Linked DNA regions of Homo sapiens: region 1 is linked to region 2. Evidence: fine-mapped expression QTL. A gene starts in region 2. The other region holds a variant in brackets. All regions are shown on one strand. Distances are between the middles of the regions. Region 1 overlaps FAM107A (family with sequence similarity 107 member A). Region 2 holds the start of ACOX2 (acyl-CoA oxidase 2).

Evidence for each region. PIP is the estimated chance that this variant, and not a neighbour inherited with it, causes the effect.
Region 1: its variant is fine-mapped to the expression of ACOX2 in pancreas (GTEx, PIP above 0.99).

Annotation. Positions count from the first base shown.
Region 1 is chr3:58,564,537-58,567,437 of GRCh38, forward strand. FAM107A (family with sequence similarity 107 member A) reads right to left here. Exons shown (of 4, transcript NM_001076778.3): 3 at 2,672-2,828; 4 at 1-2,159. The coding sequence ends at 2,052. All of the region lies in intron 1 of LOC107984079 (a long non-coding RNA gene), which reads left to right. Among named protein-coding and RNA genes, the nearest start is that of FAM107A, 11 kb to the right of the region's middle. RefSeq lists enhancers at 1,161-1,685, 1,686-2,209. The variant G/T (reference allele first, on the strand shown) is at 1,630.
Region 2 is chr3:58,536,038-58,538,938 of GRCh38, forward strand. ACOX2 (acyl-CoA oxidase 2) reads right to left here and starts at 1,153. Exons shown (of 15, transcript NM_003500.4): 1 at 1,082-1,153. LOC107984079 (a long non-coding RNA gene) reads left to right here. Exons shown (of 3, transcript XR_001740724.2): 1 at 1-277.

The sequences.
Region 1 (2,901 bases), 28 kb after region 2:
AGGGCGTGGTGCTTGAGGTCCCTTCTACCTCTGGGGCTTCATGGAATGACTTGTTGCCTCCATGGAGCACCTCTGGGGACCACTGGGTGAATCCCCAGGCATTCCCTTGGAGAGCCCTCGTCCATCTGAGACCCTCTGTCTTGCTTCTCTTCACATGTCTGAACAACACATGGACCCGAGGGCTGCTTCTTTGGGGAAGTGGTGATCTTTATTTTAGGGATTGTGCATCTTCAGTGTAACCCTCACCTGGCAGACATTAAACAGCGTAAACACATTCTCAGCACGCCAGTCACATTCAGGAGCCTCTTGGAGCTTGACTTATACACACGCACACAGGCGCAATATCTGCATTTACAGCCCTGTGCTGGCAGCACACACAGGAAAAGCACGACTTCAGTCACCCTCAAACCACCCAGTTATGAGTAAGACCAGAACAATCCCTTTCCTCCGACAGTCCCACGTTTGCTTCCAGGAATCAAAGAGCATGCCAGTGGCAGCTATCTGTGGCAGTTTTGGGAAAGTGAAAGGAGATGCTATTCCAGCACTGCTCTGTCACCTTAGATGATGGGTTTAGGAAGCCAGAGGCAGGGATTTCAGGGGAAAAGAAACAGGCCTGGTTTATTCTCTAATTCTTTAAAAATGGGATAGGAGCAAAAGGTTAAAATATGTGGGTCTCACACAGGAAAGGCCTTCTGAAGAAGAAAAATGGGTGAATTCACTGGAGTTGGCCCAGCTAGGGGTTGGGTCTCAGGTGACAGAGGCCGGGGATTCAGACTCAAAGGGGCCAGTCCATAAAGGTGGCAGTGGGGTCTTCAAACCACTGTTTCTATTCCAGAAGCCTACTGAAAATCATTGTATATTTGCTTTCCATAAGACTAGGAAAAAGTAAAAAAAAAAAATTTTTTTTTTTTTTTTTTTTTTTTTGGCTAGAATTGCATCGTAACAGTGTGGTCACACTGGTAAGAAATGCAGATTGGCAATCATGTACATCTCTGATTAAAACAACACTCACATAACCAACACAATTTGCTAGGCCAAAGTCTTCACGGGCAATCCCTGGGGTGGGAGTCTGGGATGGGGTGGATAATGAAGGATACCTGGGGTTGCAGAAGTGGGGTGGGAATCCCTGGGGCATCAGTCCACAGGAGGTGGGGGCCAGCGATGGCTTCAGGGGTGATATTTCCAATATATATCAGCCCTGGGCACTCTCGCCCTGCTGCTCACAGCATGGTCCTCACACCAGCAGCCTCCGCCTTACCTGGGAGCTTGTTAGAAATGCAGGATCTCCCAGATCTATTGAGTTAGAAGCTGTATTAACAAGATCCCCAGTGATTTTTATGCACAATCAAGTTTGTGAGGCACCGCTGCAGACTTCTGAGTGCAGGAATGCGGCAGCCCTGGGTAGGTGTGGTTAGAAGGCCTGGACGGGGAGGCTGTGCGGAGGGGATGATGAAAGCATGGGTGAGGGGAGAAGACCCTAAACAGCTGTCTTTGTTAGTCCCCGCCCACCTGGCCGGGATGCCAGCAACAAGGCCATCTGCAGTCTGCCCTGCCCTTCCTCCCCTCAGTGGCTTTGAAGGCAGGTGTCCTTGAAGCTAAGCTCTGCTGGCTGCAGGTAAAACCACAGGT[G/T]GGGGAGTTCTCTGAGACCTAGGAGCTGGGGTGTACGGAGAAGCGGGGCCCTGGGGAGCCTCGGAGATTCCTGGTGGGAAGGCCTGGGCAGAACAGAAGGCTTGTCAAGTCAGAGGGCCACCTCTTCCTCCTCAATTCTGCCAGAGAAAGCTCCTGTGCTGGGCTCTGAACCCCTTGCAGGGAGGGGTGCAGGTTATCCCTCTTGGAGCAGGAGGGCTGGGTGCTTGGAAGGAAAACCTAGGAGCTTAGGGGCCCCAGCCTCCCAGGGAGAGCCAGGCCCTCTGGGGTGACACATTTCTACAGAAGCAGGTGGGAACATCACAGACGTCCCAGGGCCTGGGGCCCAGGGCTGCCAGGTACAGAAGGGCTGAAGGAGGCTGTCCAGGCCAGGGTGGGCAGTGGCCTGAGCCCGGCAGCTGGCCCTACAGCTCTCTCTCTTCGCTGGTCAGTGTGGCAATTCTCCGCAGGTTTTCCCTGACTTTAATAAACTCGGGGGCGTGATCCTCTTCCTTCTCTGGTGGTTTTTCCAGCTGAAGGAGGGAGAAGCAGAGAGTGAAGTGGGTGGAGCTAGGGGGATTCCTACTCTGAAAACCTGTGGAGTTTGGACCAAGGGCCCACTCAGTGGGGAAACAGAACCAACCTGGGGATGAGTTTTGCTATCAGCCTGGTAGCTGGGGCACAGAGCATGAGACTGAGTTCTCCTTGTGCAGCCTGGTTCAAATCACTCACCCCCTCTGGGCCTCAGCTTCCCCATCTCTAAAATGGGAATGCCACCTGGCTCACAAGACAGTTATAAGAATGAAATCAGAATCAGCATGCAGTACACTGGGCCAGTGAGGAAGCTGAGGTTCAGGGAAGCCACTCGCCCTAAGGACCTAGCAAAGTGAATGGCAGAGGGAGGACTCAGGCCAGGAGTGGACTCTTAGTCCAGTGCTCTGTCTGCTGATCCTCTTCCCTCTTACTAGCTGTGGCCACAGCAGAGCTCCTCCCTGGAGGACAGCCCTGGAGGATGCGTGGTCCCTGCTGGGTGCCCATCACCCACCTGGTTCAGCCTCTGCTGCCGTCTCAGCAGCTCCTGCTCAAAGGGGCACTGCAGCCGCTTGGCTTCCAGCTCCTCCTTCTTCTTCTTGATGAGCTGGTTCCGCCGGCGGTGCTCTAGGACACGCTGCAGCTCTGGCTTGCTGTCCACACCAAGGCCCCTGGGGTGGGAAGTGGGGAGCTGTCAGGAGACCATCACCTTCCCGCTTCCCCCAGCCTCAGGGCTGCTTCCTG
Region 2 (2,901 bases):
TGGAATCTGCTCCTTGGGGCCCACTGTTTGTGGAATGGAGTCCTTGCTGTGTCTACCCAACCCTACTCCACTCACCTCTCTCCTATGTCAACTTACTGCCCTCATCCCTGGCCTCCACTCATTCTCTTCCTACCCTTTGCCCCTGCTGTTCTCTCTGAACAAAGTTCAGCTCCCTCGTTCCCTGGGTGCTCTAGGGTTAGGGACAAGTTCTTATTTGCTTACATGTTCCTCCCACAAGGCCTGGGAGGCCAGCTCTGCATTTCCTAGCTTGCAGCAGGTATGTTGTAAATCTCTCCGGCAGGCTGCCATGCTTTTGATCCCCTTCCTTCCTGACCTCAACCTGACAGATGCACTGCTGTTATTACCATTTTATGGAGAGGATGTGGGCCTTGGAAAGGGAGGAGACTTTATAAGGGTCATGCAACCACATGTAGCAAATGATTCATATGAGGCTTTCAAACCAATACCCCCAGCAGGGCTGTGGGGGTGCTGGCAAGGGGCCCCATCCTCTGCCCCCCGGAGTCCTGCAAGTGCCCCTAGTGCGGCTCCTCTCGTCCTGCCTTACCTCTTTTCCTTGCTCTGCTGCCACTGCCTCCTTGCTGTTCTGAATGCTCCAGGCCTCCCTGCCACTGCCAGCATTTGCTAGGGCATCTCCATCTGCCCAGAACACCCTTTCTTCAAATGTCACTAGGGCTTTTTGCATTGAACCTCATTTAACCTTAAAGAGGCCACCCTCTTTAAAACCCCAAGCCCCCTCCCCCGGCATTCCCTGTCCTCCTCACTCTGCTCTCCTTTTTCTCTTTTCACTTATCCCCTTCTGACATTTGAGATCATTTACTCATTTCATATGTTTTTGTTTACTTCCATCTCCCTGCTACTAACACAGAAACTGCAAGAGGGCCGGGATCTTTGTCACTGTCATGCCGTGACCCTAACACTTAGTGCAGGGCCTGATTTGCAGGAGGTGCCCAGTGAAGAAAGCCTTGCTCAGGGTCTCTCGGAGCTGCGGACAGGGTCATCATGGGGGCAGCCCTCTCCTCTGGGGTCTCCCAGTCCCTCCCTGCCCAAAAACCTGGCTCACCTGGCTCCCCTCTGTCCTGTGTCCGCACTGTAGGCCGGGCTGGCCTCTCCCCGGCTGTAGGCCGCAGCCTCTGGCAGGCTTGTGGTCCTGCCCTTCTCTCCTCCCACATAGGGGCTGGAACACAGAAGCTGAGAGAAACTGCTTGGCCAGCTCTCAAGCCCTTGTCTGCTCTCAAGCCCTTGTCTGCTCTCAAGCCCTTGTCTGCTCTCAAGCCCTTGTCTGGGCTTATGGAGCTCCTCTCCTTCCTCCCTCTCTTCCTGCATGGGTGTGACCTTTGTGCCTGTCGCTGGGGCTGCCCTGGGAGGACTTCTGGGAGGTTGGAGCCCTTACATCTCAAAGCCAGGGATTCCTTTGACACTACTTGTACCAAAAAGCTGTGTACCCCAGCAGTGTTTCCAAAGTGATATCCTGGTCTTCCCTGATCTTTCACTGTGTGCCCTTCAGGCACTCAAGCTGTTAATATCACACGAGCTTAATAGGCTCCCCTGAGATGGTCCTCATGTGAAAGGATTGCTCTGTAAGGTGTACGTTTTTCCTCTCTCCCCATGTTTCTGCTCTAAAATATGGCTTGTCTTATGCTTAGCATCCCCTGACATTCCCTGGAAAAATATTTGTGAAGCATCCATCTGTAGTGTGTGGGATCCAGATGAGAGCTGGGTCTTAGTGAGAGGAATGAGAGGCTTAGAGGTTCCCTCCCTGCATAACCACCTTGGAAAGTCAGATGCGGCTCCCCATTTTGCAGGTAAGGAAACAGGCTCAGGGAGGGATGTCACTTTGTTTGGGTTTGCACAATAAGTAGATTACGTAACACATTTGTGTAAGACTGGGAAAGAAATCAAGGGGCCAGTAGGAGATCAAGGCTCCTGTTCTGGCAGGACTTCTGAGCTATGTTGACTCTGAGCAGGTGTACTCCTTTCTGGGCCTTGGCCTCCCCTGTAATGCAAGGTATTTGCTCAGTAAGGAGCCTCACAGCACCCCATCATATCCCCAAGGTAGTGTCTAGCTTGTGTCTGTAGGAAGAGGCAGGACCTGTGGCCCAAGCTTTGCAACTTATCACCTAGTAGGTCCTTCTGGAGCTGTGGGGCTCAGACTCCTGGCAGTCCTCATTGCTGTGGGCAGTGGTTTCAGGGAAGGTGGTCTTGGCCCCACTGTTTGGAGGTGAAAGTTCTTACTTACACCTGGACTCATCTCCGCCAAGGATTTATGCTATCACTGACCATGGGCAATGACTTAGTTCCTCTCTGCCATAGAGAAAGGCTTGGATTGCAGGAAGTGCCCAGTGAAGAAAGCCTTGCTCAGGGGCCCTTGGAGCAAGGCTTTTTAATAAACTCTCCATGTTTAAATTGTTTTCTCATCCGCTTTGAAGCTGACCCTGTTCTGTATGTTTTGGATGTGATCATTTTGATTTGTTGCACTGAAATCTTGAATTCTCTAGCTTAAAAAGGCTTTTTAAATTACAAAATATTTCAAACTTGTACAAAAGTGGAGAGAAAAATATAATGAACCTGCATGTACCTAACACCCAGCACTAACAATGATCACACTTGTCTCCTTGTTCTTTGTGTTTAACTTTTTATTTTGAAATAACTTTAGAATTTCAGAAAGCTGCAAAAAGTTCTTGTATATCCTTCACTCAGCTTCTTCTAAGGTACAATTATGAAACCAAGCCATTAACACTGCTGCAATATTGTCAGCTAATCTTCAGAACTTATTTGAGTGTGTCAGAGGTTCTCCAAGATCAACCTCAGGTCCAGTGATTTGCTAGGAAGACTCATAGAACTTAGAAACTGTTATACTGAGCCAGGCGTGATGGCTCACGC